6 linked regions of the Homo sapiens genome follow. The gene in region 1 interacts genetically with each later gene. Each region holds a gene or a part of one and is shown in the gene's direction. Other genes may lie near its edges.

Region 1 (3,500 bases):
AATGGGTGCATAAAAGAACAAGTCATAGATTTTATAGAGGTGTTAGTATGGTAGCAAAAGTATGCATAGAGAAGGTTAAGCTTGAACCAATTCTTAAAATATGACTAGATTTAACTCTTTCAAGTGGACCAGAAAGGTAGGGAGCATATTTCAGGCTTGAACACTGTTTTCAGAGAGCTGTAGCTCTGTACAGCAAGCATGCAAGATGCAAAGGTGGAGTGCTGAGAAACAAGGGTATGCAGATAGGTAAGAGCCAAAGGAGGTGAGGGCTGAGCGCCTTGTTAAGGTGTATGACAAGCCACACTGAAGTCTGCATAGTCTGGTTCAATGATTTTTTTCAACCAGGGTTAATGGATAGTTTAACATGTAAGTTGATATTTCACATCCTGTCAGTGGCTTGAGTGGTAGTTCTGTATAGTTTTATGTAGTCAGTGTTTTGGTTTTCCTGTTCGTATATGAAAATGGACAATCATTGTCATAATTTTTGTTCTGCAGTATAGATTATTCATGCTTTATATTTTAGATACAATTCTTTGCTGTTATATGTTATATTCTGTTGTTATGGCAAATTTTCAGTATAATTTTCAAGTGATACTTCAGGAGTTTTCTACAATTGTTTCCCTACAGTTGTTTCACTGCGGTTGTTCTTGACCAGTGTTGTTTTCACTTTAGGGTGTGCGTGCTATACCTTATGTGTTGTCTATTTACTTCTAAATACTTAAGCCTGGAAAGAGGATAATTAAAAAGGCCATCAGTTCATATGATAACAGTTAATTTCTATTTCTTTTTAAGCTTTTACTTGACTCTTTATTTAAATAGGAATATTTATGTAGCATGCTGTGTGCTCTTGCTCCAGAAATGTAGCAGAACCATGGGAATATTTTTACATATAATCTAAGAAAAGCATATAAAGCTACTTCTATGCTGATGGCAAAAATTCTTCTCAACCTGTGGTTTCCCAGCTCTGAATAGTTAATTGACATAATGACTAATTGATGATAAATCCATTTTTAAGGGCTAGCTATTAAAGTCTTTTTTAAAAAGACCTTTATGTTATTGTTAAACTAGTGTTAGAAACATGGGAATAAAAAGTATATTCATATGATTACATTTACCACAAAGACTGTGTAAGAGAGATTTCTGACTGAAACGTGGAGAGGAATAAGACTAATGACAATAGTAATAATAATAACTGACATTAATATGTGACATAAGGCATTATGTTAAGTGCTTTATGTGCATGACTTCATTTAATCTTTATAGCAGTGCTTTGAGATAGGCAGTGCTGGATTAAGATGTTAGAAGCCCTAAGAACTGAAAAGGTTACACTCTGAGGCATTTCTCCTCCTCTCCCATATGTGATTAAAATTTTTTTAAAAATAGCATACTAAAGCAAACATAAGAAAATCTAACAAAATTTCATTTATTACTGTGGTGACAAAGTTGATGTCTTTTTCAAACATCAAGTTCCGTTTTGAGAAGTTTTTCTAACTTTCCTGGTCTGCTTTGCTGGTACCTTAAGTAAATGCTTTGTCCGTCCCATAGATTATTGCTCTCTGGTGGCAGGTATTTTATGGATTAGCAAATTGAGTTTAGAGATGTTGGGAAATTTGTCTGGAGTTACAGAGTAGACAGTGGATCCAGGATGTAAATTCAGACATTCTGACAAAGTACACAGGCGCACTGAAGTTTAAGTAGATTTGTACATATTCCTGTGTTTTGAAGCTAAGCATCTTAAATTTATGTAGGGGAATTATTGACATCTACTCTTAATTCACAATTTCTTTAGAAACAAGATCTTTTCCTTTTAGAGTTTCAAATAAGGAATTGGCTGAAATAAAAGGATGAAACTTTTAGATCCTGTTAAAGATAAATTTTAATAATTCCTCAGGGAATTTATTACATAGAAAGCACATCTATGTTCTCCTGTTTTAGACCTGTTTAAGATGAGTTTTAATTATTCCTCAGGGAATTCATTACATAGAAAGTACATCTGTGTCCTCCTGCGTGTTGTACTAATAAAACAACCCACTTCTTAGCTTTTGCCAATATCATCCCCTTTTCCCTCCCTACCTTGAGCCTCTATGTTACTTTCTTCTAAGAGCATTTCTTCTTTTGGCTTCTGTAATTTTCCAGGTAAGACTGTAGGCATTATGATTAAGCCTTAGAATTTGATTGGCTAGAAATCTTTAAGGTTCTTTATGTTCTTGAATTTTATTCACTTTTAGAAGTGCATTTTAACACCCGGAAGTGAATAAGACTTGAATATTCCATGTTATTTTCTTAATCAAAACCTGTCCATTATTGGTACAGATTGTCTTCCTGCTGCGGGTGTTTCAGAACCAGAATTGTAGCAGTAGGGTTCGTTCTACTGGAATGGTATAACTAATGGACTTTCAACAGAAAATTTTCCCCTAGAAAGTAGTAGTATTAACAACAGTAAAGCTACCAGGTTTTAAGTGCCTGTTATGTATGGACCCGAACCAGGCTTTCTTCTCTGACCTAACCAGCTTCTTCACAGTCCTGCAATGTGTAGGAGTGATATCCTCTTTATAAAGGTTAAAAAAACTGAGGCTCAGTTGTTTACTAAAGTCACAAAGCAAAAGAGTGGTAGAAATTCTGGGACTTTTTTTCTCAGTGTAGATCTACTATTCCTATCTAGTATGCCATCAGATTTTTTGAAGAAAAGAACATTAACTGGCAAGGCTCTTTGAAGGAATTTCTTTTCTTATAAAGCCAGGCCAAATTTTGTCTCTGTTTGCTAATGTCTTATCGACTATGGGCAAATTACTAAGCTCTTGTGAACCCCATTTCTCTAATTTGTGAAATATTTGCTTCACAGTGTTGCTGTGAGGATTTGTGAGATAATATATATGAGACATAATGTTTCACAGACCAGGTTCTCAAGTGTTTGCACCATATAGTTGCACAGTCAAACTTTTATTTAGGTGTATACCTTATATGTCAGTAAATAAATTTTTATCTATGCCTTCTTAGCTATGGATGTTTCAAACAATAAAATGATATTTAAAAGCGAGGTCTTAATTCAGGGACTTATTTAGTTATTTTTATTTTTTTCCTGCCTGGCTTTTTAATGTCTGACTACCCTAAAGAAAATCTTTTGGATTAAGTTTTTGAAGTGAGTTCTGATATTAATAGTTCTTGTTAAGATGGAAAAGATGTTAATAAAAACACACTTGAGAAATATGTAAAGTGGGATCTGAAAGGCTAGCATATTGGAGATGTATTGAAGTATACATATCTCAGTATTATTTCAATATTACATGCTATTTGCAAAGCTATTAATGCTGATGTAGATACTGATAGAGTTATTGTATAATCAGTTTTTAGAAAAAGAGAGTTTTGAGTTTTATTGATACAACCGTAGTTTGCTTTTGTGCAGATGGGCTGCTTCTTTATAGCATTTGTGATTTGACATTTGCCGTTAGTATTATCTCTTGACTCTATGCAGATGGCGTTACTTGACCCATGCAAGTTCA
Region 2 (4,300 bases), on another chromosome or scaffold:
GCAAGCAGAAGTATAGAAGGATGTAAATTTTGCAGATGGTAGTAATTAGTGCTACTTTCTCATTTGTGCTCCCACTAAATTTTGTGTTCTATTGGTACTCATCATATGTTAATCATTTCTTTTCTTTTCTTTTCTTTTTTTTTGAGACAATGTCTCACTTTGTTGCCCAGGCTGGAGTGCAGTGGTGCCATCTCGGCTCACTGCAACCTCCGCCTCCAGGGTTCAAGCGATTCTCCTGCCTCAGCCTCCCGAGTAGCTGGGATTACAGGCGCCTGCCACCACGCCTAGTTTATTTTTGTATTTTCAGTAGAGACGGGGTTTTGCCATGTTGGCCAGGGTGGCCTCGAACTCCTAACCTCAGGTGATCCACCCGCCTCGGCCTCCCAAAGTGCTGGGGTTACAGGCGTGAGCCACCGCGCCCGGCCGGTAATCATTTCTGTCACTCAACAAATATTTATTGAGCGCTTGCTATGTACCAGGACCTGTTCTTGCACAAAACAGGCAATCCATGCATTGCTTACATTCACATTCTAGTGGGGGTAGTGACGGACCATAAAATCAGCAAGAAAAATGTATGTTATGATAGATGGTTATGAGTGCTTTAGAGTAAAATTAAGTAGGGGAGGCAGGCAGGAAGTGTGTAGTATGTTTCAATTTTATATTAGGCTGGTCATGGTTTGTCATCTATTTCACCTGGCTCACAGTTCTTGCAGGACAGGAACAAATCTCACTTCCATTTGCCTTCATACTTCCAGCACTTAACACAGCACCAGGAACTCAGGGAGGCAATAACTTTATACTGAATCCGTTTTATGCCTTCCTAGAGGCAAGCAGTTGAGAAAGGCGTGTAACTAGATATTGCCTATAAGGTCCACAATTGGAATAACGTAATCATTTATGATTAATTTTATTCATTTCCATTAACTTAAGCTAAGTTCTTTTAGCACGTTTAGATTACAGAACGAAAGCTGTGTTAACTAGTATTACAGGACTTTTCACGTTTTTCCAAACATCTTCTAGCCACCTCTTTGGCCCTACAACTACGCATAAGCTTTTGCTTTTCAAAAAACCTCCACAGCCTTTGCCAATTATTTGTTGATCTCGAGTAGTTGTTATAACAGCACTTGGGGTTTAACACTAAGGTTGCAGATCGCGCCCAGTTATCAGTTCCTCGAACCTCAAGGAATCACAAAGCAAGGTTCCACCCCCCGAAAAACTACGAAAAGTGAGAAAGCCTCTAACACTCCTCGCGCCGTGCCCAGCCGGAACCTTGACCTCAAGATGGCGTCCCGTAGTCGTAAGATTCAGTCGGCTCCAATCAAACATGGTGGGTCATAATTTACAGTTCGGGCCTTTCTAGTAACCGCTAGACGCTGCTTCTCTATGGTTATTCGTCTCGGCTTGGTGAGTCAGAGCCAACAGCGGAGACGATCTATATACGTTCTTCTCTATGGTTCCGCGCTCCCCGCCCCCGGCCGCAGTGCACGCCGGGCAAGAGGAAGACCTCCATCAGCTCGCCGCGCAGCGCGGCTGTATTTGCGGCCTGTGCGAGTAGGCGCTTGGGCACTCAGTCTCCCTGGCGAGCGACGGGCAGAAATCTCGAACCAGTGGAGCGCACTCGTAACCTGGATCCCAGAAGGTCGCGAAGGCAGTACCGTTTCCTCAGCGGCGGGTGAGTTTGTGTCTCTGAACGCGTGTGGAAACCGGGAGACCGGGTGCCTCAGCTGGTGGAGGAGGAAAAGCCGGGGTGGCTGCGAAAGCGCCAGGGTGGGGTAGAGGTAAGGGGGAGCGCGGAGGCGGGGGTGGGGGAGGGGTCGGCACGAGGCTTGGTTTCTTCTCTTCTCTAAGGCCTGGAAAAGCTGTGGGCCCAGCCGTAGCTGGTGGAGGCCAGACCTACGGCTTGAGCTTTCCGTCTTGCATTGTCGCCCACTTTCCCTTTCCCTTCCACGTTCCGCCGCGGAGTGAATCGTCTCTGCCCCCCCTGGGCTCCACGTTAGATACAAAACGATCGATCTGCCCCAGGGGAGCCCTTCCCTGAGCCCCCTTACTTACCGGAGCCCCACAGTAGGTTTTCGGGCCTGGGACACTCTCGCCCCAGCCGTTGCCTTGAAGTTAGCCTCTACCCACCCTTTTTAGCGAGGTGCTGGCCACCAACGGATATCTTTCCCTTCCTCTTTGGCCATCTAGAGCCCGCCACCAAGTGAACTGGGCCCCACCCCCTTGGAATTGAGCTAATACCTACCTTTTTAGCAGTCTCCTGGCTTGCTTAAGATAGTCATGAATTTTGCCATCCTGCCTCTTTTGCGCATTGGAGGGTGCAGTAAACTGTATATCGCCATTCATTCTAGGCGATTACTAAGCTCCACATTAAAATGTTACTTTCTCATTTTTCTTTGGTCGTCAATCCTGCTTTTAAATACGGTTTTCCGGAATAGACGTAGGACTATGAAGATTTTTCGGAGGTTATGTAATATGGATTTGTATTGCCATGGAAATGCCATTTTGATACTGGGCAGAGTGGAGCCAAGAGAAGGGAAGAGATTGGACCTCTGTTGCACCCTACTGCTGTATTAGTGTGAAGTACTCTGTGTATTAGGCCGTGGGCAGTAATGTATAAATAATTTTTGTATAGTCTTTGGAGCTTTTAATTTTTTTAAAGGCTATTTCCAAAAACATTCAGAGGACTTGAAAGGGATTAAGTTGGTCATAAGTTACTCATGATTCAAGTGAATCTTATAGTATTCTAATTCATTTAACTTAAAGCCTTGGTTTTTCTTTTTCTTTTTTCTTTTAAGCTTTGGTTTTTGTTCCTCTGTAAAATGAATTTATAGTAGTATCTATACGTTATTGGGGTTGGGGATTGAGAAAAACGTATGTAAAATCCTTCGTGCAGTATCCAGGTAACACACATAAGCATTTAAATCTATATTGACATAATTTGTTATTTAAGGATTTTCAATGAAATGTAAGAGTCCAACCCTGACTCTGTAATTTTTTTTTTTGTTTTGTGTTGTTGTTTTTTTTAAGACGGAGTCTTGCTGTGTTGCCCAGGCTGGAGTGCGGTGGCGCGATCTTGGCCACTGCAACCTCCGCCTCCCAGGTTCAAGCGATTCGCCTGCCTCAGCCTCCTGAGTAGCTGGGACTACAGGCGCGCGCCACCACGCCCGGCTAATTTTTGTAGTTTTAATAGAGGCGAGGTTTCACTATGTTGGCCAGAATGGTCTCGATTTCCTGACCTCGTGATCCGCCCGCCTAGGCCCCAAAGCGCTGGGATTACAGGCGTGAGCCACCGTGCCCGGCCTTCTGAATGTATTTTTAAAGTAAAACTAGTCCATGTTAACATTGGGTAACTACTTCAGACCTAACAGGAATTTGGAATTTTCAAGTTATGTTTTTGTCCACAGACAAATTAGCAGTTTACTTTTCTTATTTACACATGATTTAGTGAAAATTTACATTATTTTATAGCTTTGGAAGCAAAGGAATCATTTATCAATCTTAACATCTTGCTAAAACAGTCTGTATTTTAGAGATCTCTTGATTGACTTTTCAAACACTATCACTGCCATTCACAAAAGGGGATTTTTGATTCTTCTTAAATAGCTTTTCTACCTTTTTTTGAAAATTGAAAGTTGCTGAAACTAGAAGAACAAAATTCCACTACCCAGAATTATTGGTATTGGCTTTTAACTTTTTATTTAGACATAATTTCAGATTTACAAAAAAAGTTGCAAGAATAGTACAAAAGAAATCTCAGCTATCTTTCACCAGATTCCTCAAATGTTAACATTTTGCCAATTTGCTTTATCCTTCTCTTCATAGGTTTCTTCTGAAATGTTTTGCTAGTAAGTTGCAGATGTGATGCCCCTTAACCCATAAATACTTAAGTGTATTTTCTAAAAATTAGGACTAGTCTTACCTAACAACAGTACGACAATCAAAATCAGGAAACTAACACTGATAAAATACCTAATCTACAGTTCTTAAATAGATTTTGCCGATTTTTCTGAGTTGGTGTACTTTTTTTTTTTTTTCCTTTTTGGAGATGGAGTCTCGCTCTGTCACCCAGGCTGGAGTGTAGTGGCGCGATCTCACCTCACTGTAACCTCCGCCTCCCGGGTTCAAGCAATTCTCTTGCCTCATCCTCCATAGAAGCTGGAATTATAGGTGCCTGCCACCATGCCTGGCTAATTTTTGTATTTTTAGTAGAGACGGGGTTTGACCATGTTGTCCAGGCTGGTCTTGGAACTTCTGACCTCAGGTGATCCACCCGCCTTGGCCTCCCAAAGTGTTGGGATTG
Region 3 (3,500 bases), on another chromosome or scaffold:
ATCCTCAAAATTACCCTTTTGTGCAAATGTGGTTATTTCCATTTTAATGATGAGAAAATAGGAATGTTGGAGGAATAATGCCAACTTTCCCAAGGTCATTTAGCTAGTTAAGAGATAGAGACAGGACCGGCCGGGCGCAGTGGCTCACGCTTGTAATCCCAGCACTTTGGGAGGCGGAGGAAGGCGGATCACGAGGTCAGGAGATTGAGACCACGGTGAAACCCCGTCTCTACTAAAAATACAAAAAAAAAAAAAAAAAATTAGCCGGGCGTGGTGGCGGGCGCCTGTAGTCCCAGCTACTCGGAGAGGCTGAAGCAGGAGAACGGCGTGAACCCAGGAGGCGGAGCTTGCAGTGAGCCGAGATCGCGCCATTGCACTCCAGCCTGGGCGACAGAGCGAGACTCCGTCTCAAAAAAAAAAAAAAAAAAAAAAAGAGACAGGACCTCAAACCCATAACATGTCTCAAGAGCCCAATCCCTTAGCAAGTATGCTCATCTAAGAATTTCTTCCTCCAAAATATTTAGGTGTGTGTGTCCAAATATCTTTATCACATTATAAGAGCAGAAACTTAATTAAATGCCCAACAGTTTATTCCATAGAACACAGTGTAGCTATTAAAAATCATATTGAAATAGAAAATACTCATGGGAAGACGTCTGTGATACTGTTAAGTGAAGGGGCAAATTTCAAAACCAGATTTATAATAAAAGTATAGTTTTTAAAATTATGTGTACAGGAAAAGACTAGAAGGACATACATCAGAATGGTTCACAATGGTTTTATATGTGTATGTATGTTTGGGGAGCAGAATTTTAGGCTTCTGTTTTGCTTTGAATTTTCCAGTTTTCTTGCTTTAAACATATTTTTTATAATTAATATAATTATAAAAGAAAGCAGAAATTTCCTCCAAAAGGATACCTTTTAGTCCCAACTCCTGGACTGTAAGAAATAGATTCTCAGTATGTAAATGGTATTCCTGAGCCTGGTGTGTCCCACTTAGCCTAATTTATTGTCTCTCTTTAACAGATGACATAACTTGGGAGTGATTACTTATCTTACGAGAATATATCTTTGCTATCTAAAAAAATTTGCTGTGCAGCTCTTATCTTCCCTTGTGTATGCAATAATATATACCTGCACATTTTAGGAGCACATGATTGTAAGACAACTCCTGCTTCATATGTTTGTAACATGTCTGTAGGTTCCAAATGCCTTAATTTCGACATTAAATTTCAATTTTAATGTATTTGTGTATCTCTTCCACACTATTTTTCTGACCAACATAGTAGACCAACTAATGGAATAGAAGGGTATGGTGCTCCCACACTGATCGGGATCCCTATTAGACCAGCTTTCATTACCAACTCACCTATAACTTGAGGATATTAAAATGAAACTCGCTGATTAATAATATGGAGTTCCTATATTAATCAACACAAGTACTTGGAACCTTGCAATAACAATTCAGCGGAAGGTCTAGGAATTTTAACAAGGATTCCCAAATCAGGCATCCAGCCCTTGAGGTTGGGTCAGCTGCTGCCTGCTTCACTGTCATCCTGCATTCCTTGGCACTTTGCTGGGCTCCCTCATTCTTTCCCAAGGTGAAGACTCCAGGAAGCTAACATCTCAACTGTTTAACCTGGTGTTTCTCATTCTCTTTAGACTGGTGGTGTGCTTGTTCCAGAGAAACTGGCTAGTTCGAAAAATGAAATAGCGTTTTTGCTTTTTATTATGATAGAAATGGAGAAGTGAACCATTGTCATATTACTTTTAGTTTGCAGAACATTCAGCTTGAAGGTTTAATACAGAATGAACATCATGTATCTTAGTGCCCAAGTGGGACTCCCCTGCACCCCCACTGATAATTGCTGCCATATTGTGTCTATGAACAGGTTCCTGGTATAAATTTACCCGTCAATCAACTGACCTATTTCTTCACGGCAGTTCTCATTAGTGGTGTTGTACATGAAATTGGACATGGGATAGCAGCTATTAGGTAATGATATTTACCTTTTTCTTTGTACTACATGCAAAAAAAAGCTTTTCATTTAGGAGGATTTATTACTAAAATCTGCTATATTTGATACTTCACTATTTTTCTTTCTGCGGCTATTGCCTAGTGCATAGCCATCATTTGTTACTTTGAGGAAGCTTCTTTTTTTATAGAGAAGATTAATATGTTGATGAATATGCTCCATTAACCATGGGCATATCTGTAATCAGGGTCTTTCTATCCTTTGCCTTTTCCAGTGTGGTTATCCTCATGATGCCTCAAAGTTTTTTACCAAGTCCTAAAAGCCAATCTTTCTGTTCATCGAGTCAGAATGATAACCACTGTACTCAAAACCCACTCACCTTAGAACTTGATTTGACTTATCAGCTGAAATAATTTCCTGCTTCTGCTTATGTCCTCTGCTGGCTAGAGCAAGAAAACTGAAAGCACTGGGTTTAACAAATATCATAGTCTATCTAGAAACCCAAGTGGAAGATAAGAAGACACCTGGGACTAGCTTTGAGTATCACTCCCTGTTCTTGGTCTTGGCTTCCCAAATGTATCATTGTAACTATACCTAAGCATTTAGAAGCCTATAACACATATAAAATCATGATGGGGAGAGGGCCACGTCATAACTCCCCTGCTACCTCCACTGATAATTACGGCCATAATTAGCAAGCATGCTAATAGGAATGTGTTTTATCCTTTCGGTGTGTGGACCAGAGAAAAGGTTAAAAACCTCTGTTTTGGCAGAGAAGATGTAATCACTTCTTATTACTTTCCAGTTGTTTATGAACAAGAGTCTATTTATTGGCAATAAATCCTCATCTTGACAGAGCATATACTGTTACACAGATGTGCACAATAGTGGCTTAAAGTGGTGGCTGCTGGGTTTTTTTTTTCTTTTAAAATCGCCTTCAGTGCTTTGCAGCCTTTAGGATTTTACCTATAGACACATCGTTAATAACAGCTTAACAATTTACAGTATGTTTGTAAAAATAACTTGGGTAATTTTTTTTTAAGTCCCAACTGCCAAGAAAAAAAATGAACTGTACGGTTGTCTTATATATTTAGTATTAAGCAACAGCACAATATATTTAGGTGATACTTTTTTCTAGGGGGGCTGTTTGGTTTTATGAGACTTAAATATTAATTTTTGGAAAATGAACTGATAAAAAATGGTTCTCTTTTTTTTTTTAATATGGAGATCAAAACCTGCTGAAAAAACTGGTTCTCTTAAGGACAATCTGAGCATTATGCATGTTTAAACATACTTATTTAACGTTAGCTTGATAGGAATACACCTAGATAAATCTCCACCATTATTTATAATTGCTAAGACAAATACAAGTTATTAGGTAATTTACTTGAATTATATCGTCTCCTATGTTCTTCTCTGAAAATAGTTCAGAGTAAACCATAAAAATGTTTTTCATTTAGTTTCTCATAAAAGCCATTTCTGTATATATGTGACTAACTTCAATTATTTGCTCAACATATTGGT
Region 4 (4,263 bases), on another chromosome or scaffold:
CCCAGCTAAATTTTTTGTATTTTTAATAGAGACAAGGTTTCACTATGTTGGCCAGGCTGGTCTCGAACTGCTGACCTCAGGCTATCCACCCGCCTCAGCCTCCCAAAGGGTTGGGATTGCAGGCGTGAGCCACCGCACCCGGCAGATCAGTTTTTTATGTACACTGCTGGACAAACAGTATTTTGGACTGACTCATTGTAGCTTTGGAAATGTTTGGATTTTTTAATAGCTTTAACCTTTCTTGACCAAAATTCCACTATAATGGCTGCTTAGATTTGGATGAAAACTCAACAGCTTTATTTTTTAAAAGTTTGATAGCTTTATAAATGCTTTTTTAAAAAATTCCGGATGTGAAAATATTTATGTTTGTAGTTAAGATTGACCCAAGTGGGACTCTAGATCGGTGGATTCCAACAGAAATGTTTCTTCAGAGATGATTATTAAATAATGGGATGGACTAAACAAAGAAGGTGCCCCCCCCCCACCAAAAAAAAAGATATATATACATAGAACTAACTTTCCGGTAAACTAAGCAAATTCCACGAGGAATGCAAAGATGACCATTTTTGAAGGTAGGAATTTAAATTGGGTTTAGATAACAAATAACGGGTTGTAGACAGCTTACCCATAATCCCTCCTTCCCCCAAGCACTAGGCAGTGAAGTTAGACTTCTGGATTCCACCTCCACGCTCACCGCGCGGCACTATGCAATCTTCGGTTAGTTACCAGGTCTAAGTTAGGCTTCTGGATTCCAACTCCACGCTCCACCGCGCGGAACTATGCAATCTTGAGTTAGCTACCGGGTCTAAGTTAGGCTTCTAGATTCCAAATCCACGCTCCACTGCGCGGTAACTACATAATCTTGGGCTAGTTTACCAGCTCTAAGACTTAATTTTGCCATATGCAAGATGGAGATAACATCCAACTCCTGGTGTGTGAGGATTACGTGAATCCTTGCAGAATGTGGCTCAGTGCCTGGGACATAGTAAGCGCTCTACGGCTTCTGCTAGCATAACGCTGTTAGTTTCTCTCATCCTCCTACATCTACCTATCTCAACCAAGGTCCTGCGCTAAGCAGGGGCCTCCAAGCTGGGACGCAGCCCTTACTCTCAGGGTCAGCGCCGGCTGGGAAGGCCGCGACCTAACCAGGAGATTACGAACAATGTCACCAGGGCCACAGCGGAGCTCCTGCCAAGTCAAGCAACTCATGGAACCAACGGAGGCGAAGTCCGAATACCTAGGCAACCCTAACCTAAAAGTGTTTTTAACGTTCTCAGGTCCTATAATTTACCCAAATAAAGTGGGACCGTATTTGCAGGCGCTGAGAAACTTTCTCAACAGTAAGAACCAATCAGGCGCAGTGCGCAGGCGCCTTCAGTGGGTCCTGGGTCCGCCTCTTCCGCCCGGTGCGGGCGCCGATTGGTCCGCGTGGACACATAAGAGGCTGCGTATAGGCGCGAGAGCCCCTTTCCTCAGCTGCCGCCAAGGTGCTCGGTCCTTCCGAGGAAGCTAAGGCTGCGTTGGGGTGAGGCCCTCACTTCATCCGGCGACTAGCACCGCGTCCGGCAGCGCCAGCCCTACACTCGCCCGCGCCATGGCCTCTGTCTCCGAGCTCGCCTGCATCTACTCGGCCCTCATTCTGCACGACGATGAGGTGACAGTCACGGTGAGTGCGGGCGCGGGCCGGCGGCCGGGCTGCCTGTGGGCGGTGACTTTCGGCTCTCCATGCGGTTCCCGGCTCCAGGCCGTTCGACTGAGCACTTCCGGCCGGGGCCAGGCCGCGAACACAGGCCGCATAGGGCGGGCGCTCCTCGGGGCTGGGGCCTCTCTCCGGGCAGGTCCTGGGCCCCCGGGACCACGTGCGGGCCCAGCGGGCATGGAGTGCGCTTGAGGCTGGGCGCTCCGGCTCCAAGAGCCTTCGTGTAGAAAAGCTCTTCCGCAGTGCTTGGGCACCCTGACCCGTGCCTCGTCTCTCTCAGGGACACTTACTCGGACCTCTTTCGGTGTAATTGCCTTGAATTCCCCCGGTCGTGGAGGAAGGCGCCCGAGCTCGGCTCCACCTCCCAGGTCTTGTAACTTAAAAATAGCCGCGTGACTCAGGCAAGTCCCAGCCCGTGAAACAGCAGTGATGGGCTCGCCTCATTGCAGGGCGCCTGGCACACATCTCTTTTGCTTGTGATAGAATATTTGAGCTGGTTAAACATGTTATGTACACTTATTGAGTGACGTGCAGCATTTTGGAGATATTACATACGCTACGTTTTGATGGATTGACGTTTTTATTTGTTGTAGGAGGATAAGATCAATGCCCTCATTAAAGCAGCCGGTGTAAATGTTGAGCCTTTTTGGCCTGGCTTGTTTGCAAAGGTAAGGTGATGGTGGCAAAGTGATTGTGGTAAGGCCTGCTGATTTACGAGGGCAGTTGTACATGCTAAAGTACCCCCAGCGGTGCCATAACGCCCCACATGCCGCTGGATCTCCTAGGTGTTTTTCGTTGCATGTATATCTCTAGGAGCTAATAAGATTTCAGCTTGTCAAGTCTTACGTTTCCTTATCAGACTCTGGTTTCCCTTTTGCTCTGAAACCATGGTTAAAAAAAATGTGAATCAGGTCATTTATTCCCAAAAAGGGTCACTCGGGAGATAGGTACTACGCATGTTAAGTTGCAAGCAAATTCTTTTTCTTTTTCTTTTTTTTTTCTTGAGACGGAGTCACCCAGGCTGGAGTGCAGTGGTGCGATCTCAGCTCACTGCAAGCTCCGCCTCCCGGGTTCACGCCATTATCCTGCCTCAGCCTCCCGAGCAGCTGGGACTACAGGCGTGCGCCACCATGCCTGGCTAATTTTTGTGTGTGTGTTTAGTAGTGACGGGGTTTCACCATGTTAGCCAGGATGGTCTCGATCTCCTGACCTCGTGATCCCCCCGCCTCTGCCTCCCAAAGTGCTGAGATTACAGGCTTGAGCCACCGCTCCCGGCCCGCAAGCAAATTCTTTCAGTAAATTCTTGCATTAAACCTATGGTTTGATGGACATTTGGGTTTAGCGGACTTCATTGACACAGTAGGTACTGTGTGTTGGGATATAAAAGACTAATAAAGAGGTTCCTGGTCATGGAGCTTGCACTGGCTATTTTCCATTGTACAGGTTACTTAATCTCTGTCAAGTGAAGCTAATAGCATCTAACTCCAGGGTTGTGACCTCTAAAGAGTTTTGAAAGATTGAAAACATTGTACCTATGTCATATTTAACAAGCCCCTTTTGAAGTCCTATATTTGTTTAGTAGACTGAAAATTTGAATTCACTGTTAAGAGGAGACATGGAACTGTGGAAAGAATATTCATTTGAGTGTTTCAGGAAGTTTGGATTTTTTTTTTACCAACATATTATTTGTAAAAGGAGGGAAATCAGCTGCCTCAGGAGGTTCTTAACATATAGGAATGTAATTATCAGATTCAAAGCTGAACAGTAGTGCGTTGCCCTGTAACCTAAGTCTTGGCTGTTAGCAAAGAAAAGCCAGTGTCTGGGGTATTGGTTCCAGGACCTTCCACTAATAACAAAATCCCAGGATGTTCCATCTCTTATATAAATGTATTTGCATATAACCTATGCACATCCTCCTGTATACTTTAGAAGTCTACATGTTTGGTACACATGCTTATTTTTCCACTGTTGAATCCATGGATGTGGAACTCACTGTATATAGTGTTAGGGGTTGATCACTGTAACCTGGAATGGGGGATACTTTTCGTTTTTGGCTGCGTGAGTGCTTAACAAGGACAGAACTGGGCGTTTACCTATGCATGCACATGTATTGCAGGCCCTGGCCAACGTCAACATTGGGAGCCTCATCTGCAATGTAGGGGCCGGTGGACCTGCTCCAGCAGCTGGTGCTGCACCAGCAGGAGGTCCTGCCCCCTCCACTGCTGCTGCTCCAGGTAGGAAACATGGAGTTTTTAGTATTGGGAGGAGTGTAGAGATTTTTTAAAAAATAGTATTATAGACAAAATTGCCATTAATTTTTCACAAGTATATGAAGTATGGAAATCCTAACACCTGATTGACTTTTTTTTTCTAGCTGAGGAGAAGAAAGTGGAAGCAAAGAAAGAAGAATCCGAGGAGTCTGATGATGACATGGGCTTTGGTCTTTTTGACTAAACCTCTTTTATAACATGTTCAATAAAAAGCTGAACTTTACTGCTGTTGGTCTTGTCCATAGTTTTGGAATGTGCTCTGCAAAAATGGTCTGTTTTGTAATGTTGGCTTTC
Region 5 (3,500 bases), on another chromosome or scaffold:
TTCTAATACTAGCCCTTTAATGGATATGTGGTTTGCAGGTATTTTCTCCCACTCTATCGCTTGCTTTTTATCCTCCTCATAGGGTCTTATGCAGAACAAAAGATAGTTTTATTTATTTATTTATTTTATTTTTTTGAGACAGAGTCTTGCTCTGTCGCCCAGGCTGGAGTGCAGTGGCACAATCTCGGCTCACTGCAAGCTCTGCCTCCCGGGTTCACGCCATTCTCCTGCCTCAGCCTCCCAAGTAGCTGGGACCACAGGCGCCCACCACCATGCCCGGCTAATTTTTTGTATTTTTTTAGTAGAGACGGGGTTTCACCGTCTCTTAGACAGGTTGGTCTCCATCTCCTGACCTTGTGATCTGCCTGCCTTGGCCTCCCAAAGTGCTGGGATTACAGGTGTGAGCCACCACGCCCGGCCTATTTATTTATTTTTTGAGACAGACTCTCACTGTGTCACCCAGGCTGGAGTGCAGTGGTGTGATCTCCACTTACTGCAACCTCTGCCTCCCAGGTTCAAGCGATTCTCCTGCCTCAGCCTTTCAAGTAGCTGGGACTACAGGCATGAGCCACCATACCTGGCTAATTTTTGTATTTTTAATAGAGATGAGGTTTTGCTGTGTTGGCCAGGCTGGTCTCAAACTTCTGACCTCAGGTGATCCGCCCACCTCAGTCTCCCAAAGTGCTGGGATTACAGGCGTGAGCCACTGTGCCCGGCTGCAAAAGGTTTTTTTTTTTGAGGAAGTCCGGAATATACATTTTTTCCTTTTATAGATTATACTTTTGGTCTCAAGTCTAAGAACTCTGTCTAGCCCCAGATGCTGAAGGTTTTCTTTTTTGAGACAGAATCTTCCTCTGTCACCTAGGCTGGAGTGCAATGGCCCGATCTTGGCTCTCTGTAACCTCTGCCTCCTAGGTTCAGATGGTTCTCATGCCTCAGCTTCCCAAGTAGCTGGGACTACAGGCATGCACTACCATGCCTGGTTAATTTTTTGTATTTTTATTAGAGACAGGGTTTCACTGTGGTGGCCAGGCTGGTCTTGAACTCCTGGCCTCAAGTGATTCACCCATCTTGCCCTCCCAAAGTGCTGGTATTACAGGTGTGAGACACAGCGCCTGGCCTGGTATTTGTTTTTTGGGTTTTTGGGGTTTTTGTTTTTTTTTTGAATTATGAAACATTTCCCATTTTTATTTATAAAATTATTAATTAAATTTGCAAAAGTAGATTTACAGAGCCTCAGGTAACAAAACAGGAAATGAAATGTTCCAGAGATGGCCGGGCGCGGTGTCTCACGCCTGTAATCCTAGCACTTTGGGAGGCCGAGGCAGGCGGATCACGAGGTCAGGAGATGGAGACCATCCTGGCTAACACGGTGAAACGCTGTCTCTACTAAAAATACAACAAATTAGCCGGGTATGGTGGCAGGTACCTGTAGTCCCAGCTACTTGGGAGGCTGAGGCAGGAGAATGGCGTGAACCGGGGAGGCGGAGCTTGCGGTGAGCCGAGATCGCCGCCACTGTACTCCAGCCTGGGAGACAGAGCGAGACTCCATCTCAAAAAAAAAAAAAGAACACAAACATGGCCGGGCCCAGTGGCTCATGCCTGTAATCCCATCACTTTGGAACACCGAGGCGGGTGGATCACGAGGTCAGGCGTTCGAGACCAGCCTGGCCAACATAGTGAAACCCTGCCTCTACTAAAAATACAAAAAATTAGCTGGGCATGGTGTCAGGCACCTGTAATCCCAGCTACTCGGGAGGCTTAGGCAGGAGAATCGCTTGAACCTGGGAGGCGGAGGTTGCAGTGAGCCGAGATAATGCCACTGCACTCCAGCCTGGGCTACAGAGCAAGACTCTGTCTCAAAAAAAAAAAAAAAAAAAAAAAAGAAATGTTCCAGAGACATTCTGAAAAGTTCCAAAGAAACACACACTAGCCTAAAAATCTCAGTTAAACCATGGTTGCACAACAGGTTATATTTATTCCTGCATTTTCTCAATAAGTTCCTCCTTATATTTGCCTTTCTCTTTTCTGACTTGTCGAGACTTGGCTTTGTGTTCAATAATTTTTTTCCGATCCTTGTTGAGATTTAGCCTGGTGATAACCACCTTGTTTGGGTGAGTACCCACGTGGACGGTTGTGCTGTTGGCCTACTCACGCTGCACCTGCTCAGTGTAGATGACATCTTTCTTTCTGTACACCTGGACTACCTTGCCAATTTGCTGACCTTTGTAGTGTCCTTGAACTACCTGGACCTCGTCGTCCTTGCGGATGGGTGTGGAGCGGACATTGTACTTCTGCCGCAGCTCCTTGGAGAGCGGGGATGACATGATCTTCCGGTGCACGTGCAAGGGGGCATGGAAGTGACGTTTGCGGTTTTTGCTGCGGTCCAAGTTCACGAAGGGATTGAACTTCATGGTGATGCTCCGGCTAGCGGCGGCCTCAGGCCTGTTTTGTTTTTTTTTTTTTTTTTGAGACAGTGACTCACTTTGTCACCCAGGCTGGAGTTCAGTGGCATGATCAAGGCTCACTGCAGCCTCGACCTCCTTGGCTCAAGTGATCCTCCTGCCTCAGCCCTCCAAGTAGGTGGGACTATAGGTATATGCCAGCATACTCAGCTTATTTTTGTATTTTTTGTAGAGACCGGTTTTCGCTGTGTTGCTCGGGCTGGTCTCAAACTCCTGAGCTCCAGCAATCTGCCCACCTTGGCCTCCCAAAGTGTTGGGATTACAGGCGTGAGCCACTGTACCTGGCCCAGTTATCATATTTTTAGTTCTAAAATTTCCATTTTATTCTTTCTATCTTCTATTTCTTGGCTGAGACTTTGTTTTTTGGTTCATATTCAAGCGTGTTCATAATTACTCATTAAATGTTGTTACCGTGGCTGCTTTAAAATCTTGGTCAGATAGTTCTGACCTCTCTGTCATTCTGGTGTTGGCATTTATAGATTGTCATCTGTTTTCATTGAGTTTGAGATTTTCCTGGTTCGTCTTTAATTATTGATTTTTTTATTGAAACATGAGCATATTTTGTTGTTACTGAAAACTTCTGTTTTAGCTGGCTTCCTCTCACACTGCCATGGTAGGGGAAGAGGGGTACCACCTCATTCCTGCCAGGTGGGAGTCGAAGTGTGGGTTCCCCACTCAGCCTTCTTTGACCAAAGTGGGAGGTTCCTCGTTACCGCTGGGCCCACTTGGTTGGGGTGGAAGTCTAGGCTTCTGATGTGGTCTCTACTAACATGTGGGGTTGGTGCCAGTTACCAGTCATCGGGGATGAAAGACCTGACTCCCTACTTGGCTTTCTCTGACACCCGCCTGGTGGGGTGTGGGGCACCTTGTTACAGCCTTGAGAAGGGCAGAGATCTACCCTCCTCCCTGTTTGCTGGTGTCTGTGGTTGTGGGGCTGTACTTTTTTTCCAGTGATATTTGGCTAGAGTAGTTATTGTGTGAAAGTTTTCTGTCTAGCTAGGCTTTCCTTTTCCTGTTCCTTCAGCTGGAGAGAGC
Region 6 (3,500 bases), on another chromosome or scaffold:
CGGGTTCAAGCAATTCTCCTGCCTTAGCCTCCCGAGCAGCTGGGATTACAGGCGCACACCACCATGCCCGGCTAATTTTTTTGTATTTTTAGTAGAGCTGGGATTTCACCATATTGGTCAGGCTGGTCTCAAACTCTTGATCAGGGTGATCCACCCGCCTCAGCCTCCCAAAATGCTGGGATTACAGGCGTGAGCCACCGCGCCCAGCTTCCAATAATAATTTTATATTTTAACTGACTTTTGGAAGCAAACTTGCAAGAAGCAGTATAGGTAAAAGAAAATCATCGCTGCCATTATGCAAGTTGTTTCCCTTACACATATATGTTGTTTTGAAACATTTTGGTTCATGTCAGTCTTACTATATGTCAGTCTTACCATATCTCCCTGATCAAAGATAAAGGAAGATGTGATGATCTAGAATGGAAGCAATTTGTTTTAGACTACTGGGAAAATTTTGTTTTGTCCAATTATGCTTTTAATATTTTTATTTTATTTATTTATTTTTTTGAGACGGAGTTTCACTCTTGTTGCCCAGGCTGGAGTGCATTGGCACAATCTCAGCTTACCACAACCTCTGCCTCCCAGGTTCAAGCGGTTCTCCTGCTTCAGCCTCCCGAGTAGCTGGGATTACAGGCATGCATCACCATGCCCGGCTAATTTTGTATTTTTAGTAGAGACAGGGTTTCTCCATATTGGTCAGGCTGGTCTCGAACTCCCGAACTCAGGTAATCCGCCTGCCTCAGCCTCCGAAAGTGTTGGGATTACAGGCGTGAGCCACAGTGCCCGGCACTTTTAATGTTTTTATTTTAATTAATTAATTAATTTATTTATTTATTTATTTATTTTGAGACAGATTTTCGCTCTGTCGCCAGCCTGGAGTGCAGTGGCGCAATCTCTGCTCACTGCAACCTTGGCTTACTGCAACCTCCGCCTCCTGGGTTCAAGTGATTCTCCTCCCTCAGCCTCCCAAGTAGCTGGGAATACAAGCATGTACCACCACACCCAGCTAATTTTTGTATTTTTAGTAGATACAGGGTTTTACCATGTTGGCCAGGATGGTCTTGATCTCCTGACCTCGTGATCTGCTGCCTCGGCCTCCCGAAGTGCTGGGATTACAGGCGTGAGCCACAGCACCCGGCCTTTGTTGGTTTTTTGTTTTGTCACACATTGAGGCCTTAGCAGGTTAGGCTTTAGTAAAAAGTCATGAGAATTAATGACATTTGGGTTTCAACTTAAAATGATCTGCCCCATAGATTCCCAGATTTTATTTCCAAAGCCTTTCTTAAGAAGACAATTAATTAAACATGCAATAATATCTTTAGGAGTTTCTAAAAAGTCTATTGGAAATCATTTTATAATAAAGATATTAGGAGCCCTCATGTTTTTGAAACGTTCTAAAAGTTATTTTGGTAAATCATTTTCTCCACTTTATTTGTTTTGTAAATCCTAAGCCTTATGTGTTGGGAATTTGTTTAGTACTTTATTTTAAACTTTACAACTTTATTATAAACTGAGGATGCAAGGAACAACATATTTTTCTGGGCTCTGCCATTTAACTCTCTAGCTAACAAATTTAGGTTTTGGTGAAGCATGCTTGTTGCTTTTAACTTCCTGATGGATATAACCCACCTTTACTATGGAGTATGACTTCTTTTTTTTTTTTTTTTTTGAGACGGAATTTTGCTGTTGTTGCCCAGGCTGGAGTGCAGTGGCACAATCTCGGCTCACCGTAACCTCTGCCTCCTGGGTTCAAGCGATTCTCCTGCCTCAGCCTCCCAAGTAGCTGGGATTACAGGCGCCCACCACAACGCCTGGCTAATTTTGTATTTTTAGTAGAGACGGGGTTTCTCCATGTTGGTCAGGCTAGTCTCGAACTCCCAATGTCAGGCGATCCACCCATCTTGGCCTCCCAAAGTGCTGGGATTACAGGCGTGAGCCACCGCACCTGGCCAAGCATGACTGCCTTATCCTGTTTTCACTTTATCAAAGATTAAATTCAAAATTCTGAAAGTAATCATTGTGAGTATGGCTGTTTCTTTTCCAATGTGGGAAAAAAATAGTGACCCATCTTTTTTCAGATGAATAAGTAGTAGATAATTTTATTGTTATATGATTCAGATATGTTTTCATGTAGGATTTAGTTTAATCTATTTTTTTTTTTTTTGAGATGTAGTCTCACTCTGTCGCCCAGGCTGGAGTGCAGTGGCTTACTGTAAGCTCCACCTCCCAGGTTCATGCCATTCTCCTGCCTCAGCCTCCTGAGTAGCTGGGACTACAGGTGCCTGCCACCACGCCTGGCTAATTTTTTGTATTTTTTAGTAGAGATGCGGTTTCACCGTGTTAGCCAGGATGGTCTCGATCTGCTGACCTGGTGATCTGCCCGCCTCAGCCTCCCAAAGTGCTGAGATTACAGGTGTGAGCTACCGTGCCCAGCCAGTTTAATCTATTTTTTAAATGAACTTTATTTCTTTAGAGTAGTTTAAGATTTACAGAAAAATTGTGAAGATAGCGCAAAGAAGTCTCATATATCCCTGCATCCAGTTTCTCCTATTGTTAACATCTTACATTAATGTGGTACAGTTGTTACAGTTAATGAGCCAATATTGATACATAATTATAAACTGGAGTCCATACTTTATTTAGATTTACTTAGTCTACCTAATGTCCATTTTCTGTTCCAGGATCTTACTCATTATACCATCTTACATTTAGTCCTGTCTCCTTGGGGTGCCTCTTGATTGGGCTGGTTTCTCAGACTGTCCTCGTTTTTGATGGCACTTAATCTATTTTACAATTGATAAGTTACAGTTCTTCATAGTTTGTTTTATTGATCTGTTTTCCTCCATATACTACTGTAGTCCATTCATTTAAAACTGGCTTTTTATTTTTCCAGTAGGAAATCCATGAAGTCCAGAAGTAGAAGTCCTGCATATTCAAGACATTCATCTTCTCATAGTAAAAAGAAGAGATCCAGTTCACGCAGTCGTCATTCCAGTATCTCACCTGTCAGGCTTCCACTTAATTCCAGTCTGGGAGCTGAACTCAGTAGGAAAAAGAAGGAAAGAGCAGCTGCTGCTGCTGCAGCAAAGATGGATGGAAAGGAGTCCAAGGGTTCACCTGTATTTTTGCCTAGAAAAGAGAACAGTTCAGTAGAGGCTAAGGATTCAGGTTTGGAGTCTAAAAAGTTACCCAGAAGTGTAAAATTGGAAAAATCTGCCCCAGATACTGAACTGGTGAATGTAACACATCTAAACACAGAGGTAAAAAATTCTTCAGATACAGGGAAAGTAAAGTTGGATGAGAACTCCGAGAAGCATCTTGTTAAAGATTTGAAAGCACAGGGAACAAGAGACTCTAAACCCATAGCACTGAAAGAGGAGATTGTTACTCCAAAGGAGACAGAAACATCAGAAAAGGAGACCCCTCCACCTCTTCCCACAATTGCTTCTCCCCCACCCCCTCTACCAACTACTACCCCTCCACCTCAGACACCCCCTTTG

The links.
Region 2: changes in ASCC3 (region 1) and RBM25 together harm fitness more than expected from each alone (negative genetic interaction), as found in Homo sapiens cells (one large-scale study listed by BioGRID).
Region 3: changes in ASCC3 (region 1) and MBTPS2 together harm fitness more than expected from each alone (negative genetic interaction), as found in Homo sapiens cells (one large-scale study listed by BioGRID).
Region 4: changes in ASCC3 (region 1) and RPLP1 together harm fitness more than expected from each alone (negative genetic interaction), as found in Homo sapiens cells (one large-scale study listed by BioGRID).
Region 5: changes in ASCC3 (region 1) and DNA2 together harm fitness more than expected from each alone (negative genetic interaction), as found in Homo sapiens cells (one large-scale study listed by BioGRID).
Region 6: changes in ASCC3 (region 1) and CDK12 together harm fitness more than expected from each alone (negative genetic interaction), as found in Homo sapiens cells (one large-scale study listed by BioGRID).

Annotation. Positions count from the first base shown.
Region 1 is NC_000006.12:100,843,330-100,846,829, reverse strand, and holds part of ASCC3 (activating signal cointegrator 1 complex subunit 3), read left to right. Parts: intron 1-3,500. UniProt on the Homo sapiens protein: ATPase involved both in DNA repair and rescue of stalled ribosomes. 3'-5' DNA helicase involved in repair of alkylated DNA: promotes DNA unwinding to generate single-stranded substrate needed for ALKBH3, enabling ALKBH3 to process alkylated N3-methylcytosine (3mC) within double-stranded regions.
Region 2 is NC_000014.9:73,057,034-73,061,333, forward strand, and holds the start of RBM25 (RNA-binding protein 25), read left to right. Parts: upstream 1-1,500; 5' UTR 1,501-1,672; exon of another isoform or gene 1,673-1,751; intron 1,752-2,052; exon of another isoform or gene 2,053-2,202; intron 2,203-2,242; exon of another isoform or gene 2,243-2,420; intron 2,421-4,300. UniProt on the Homo sapiens protein: RNA-binding protein that acts as a regulator of alternative pre-mRNA splicing. Involved in apoptotic cell death through the regulation of the apoptotic factor BCL2L1 isoform expression.
Region 3 is NC_000023.11:21,849,617-21,853,116, forward strand, and holds part of MBTPS2 (membrane-bound transcription factor site-2 protease), read left to right. Parts: intron 1-1,892; coding exon 1,893-1,996; intron 1,997-3,500. UniProt on the Homo sapiens protein: Zinc metalloprotease that mediates intramembrane proteolysis of proteins such as ATF6, ATF6B, SREBF1/SREBP1 and SREBF2/SREBP2.
Region 4 is NC_000015.10:69,451,355-69,455,617, forward strand, and holds the start of RPLP1 (large ribosomal subunit protein P1), read left to right. Parts: upstream 1-1,463; 5' UTR 1,464-1,594; coding exon 1,595-1,666; intron 1,667-2,292; coding exon 2,293-2,367; intron 2,368-3,815; coding exon 3,816-3,933; intron 3,934-4,073; coding exon 4,074-4,153; 3' UTR 4,154-4,263. UniProt on the Homo sapiens protein: Plays an important role in the elongation step of protein synthesis.
Region 5 is NC_000010.11:68,423,474-68,426,973, reverse strand, and holds part of DNA2 (DNA replication ATP-dependent helicase/nuclease DNA2), read left to right. Parts: intron 1-3,500. UniProt on the Homo sapiens protein: Key enzyme involved in DNA replication and DNA repair in nucleus and mitochondrion.
Region 6 is NC_000017.11:39,467,986-39,471,485, forward strand, and holds part of CDK12 (cyclin-dependent kinase 12), read left to right. Parts: intron 1-2,893; coding exon 2,894-3,500. UniProt on the Homo sapiens protein: Cyclin-dependent kinase that phosphorylates the C-terminal domain (CTD) of the large subunit of RNA polymerase II (POLR2A), thereby acting as a key regulator of transcription elongation.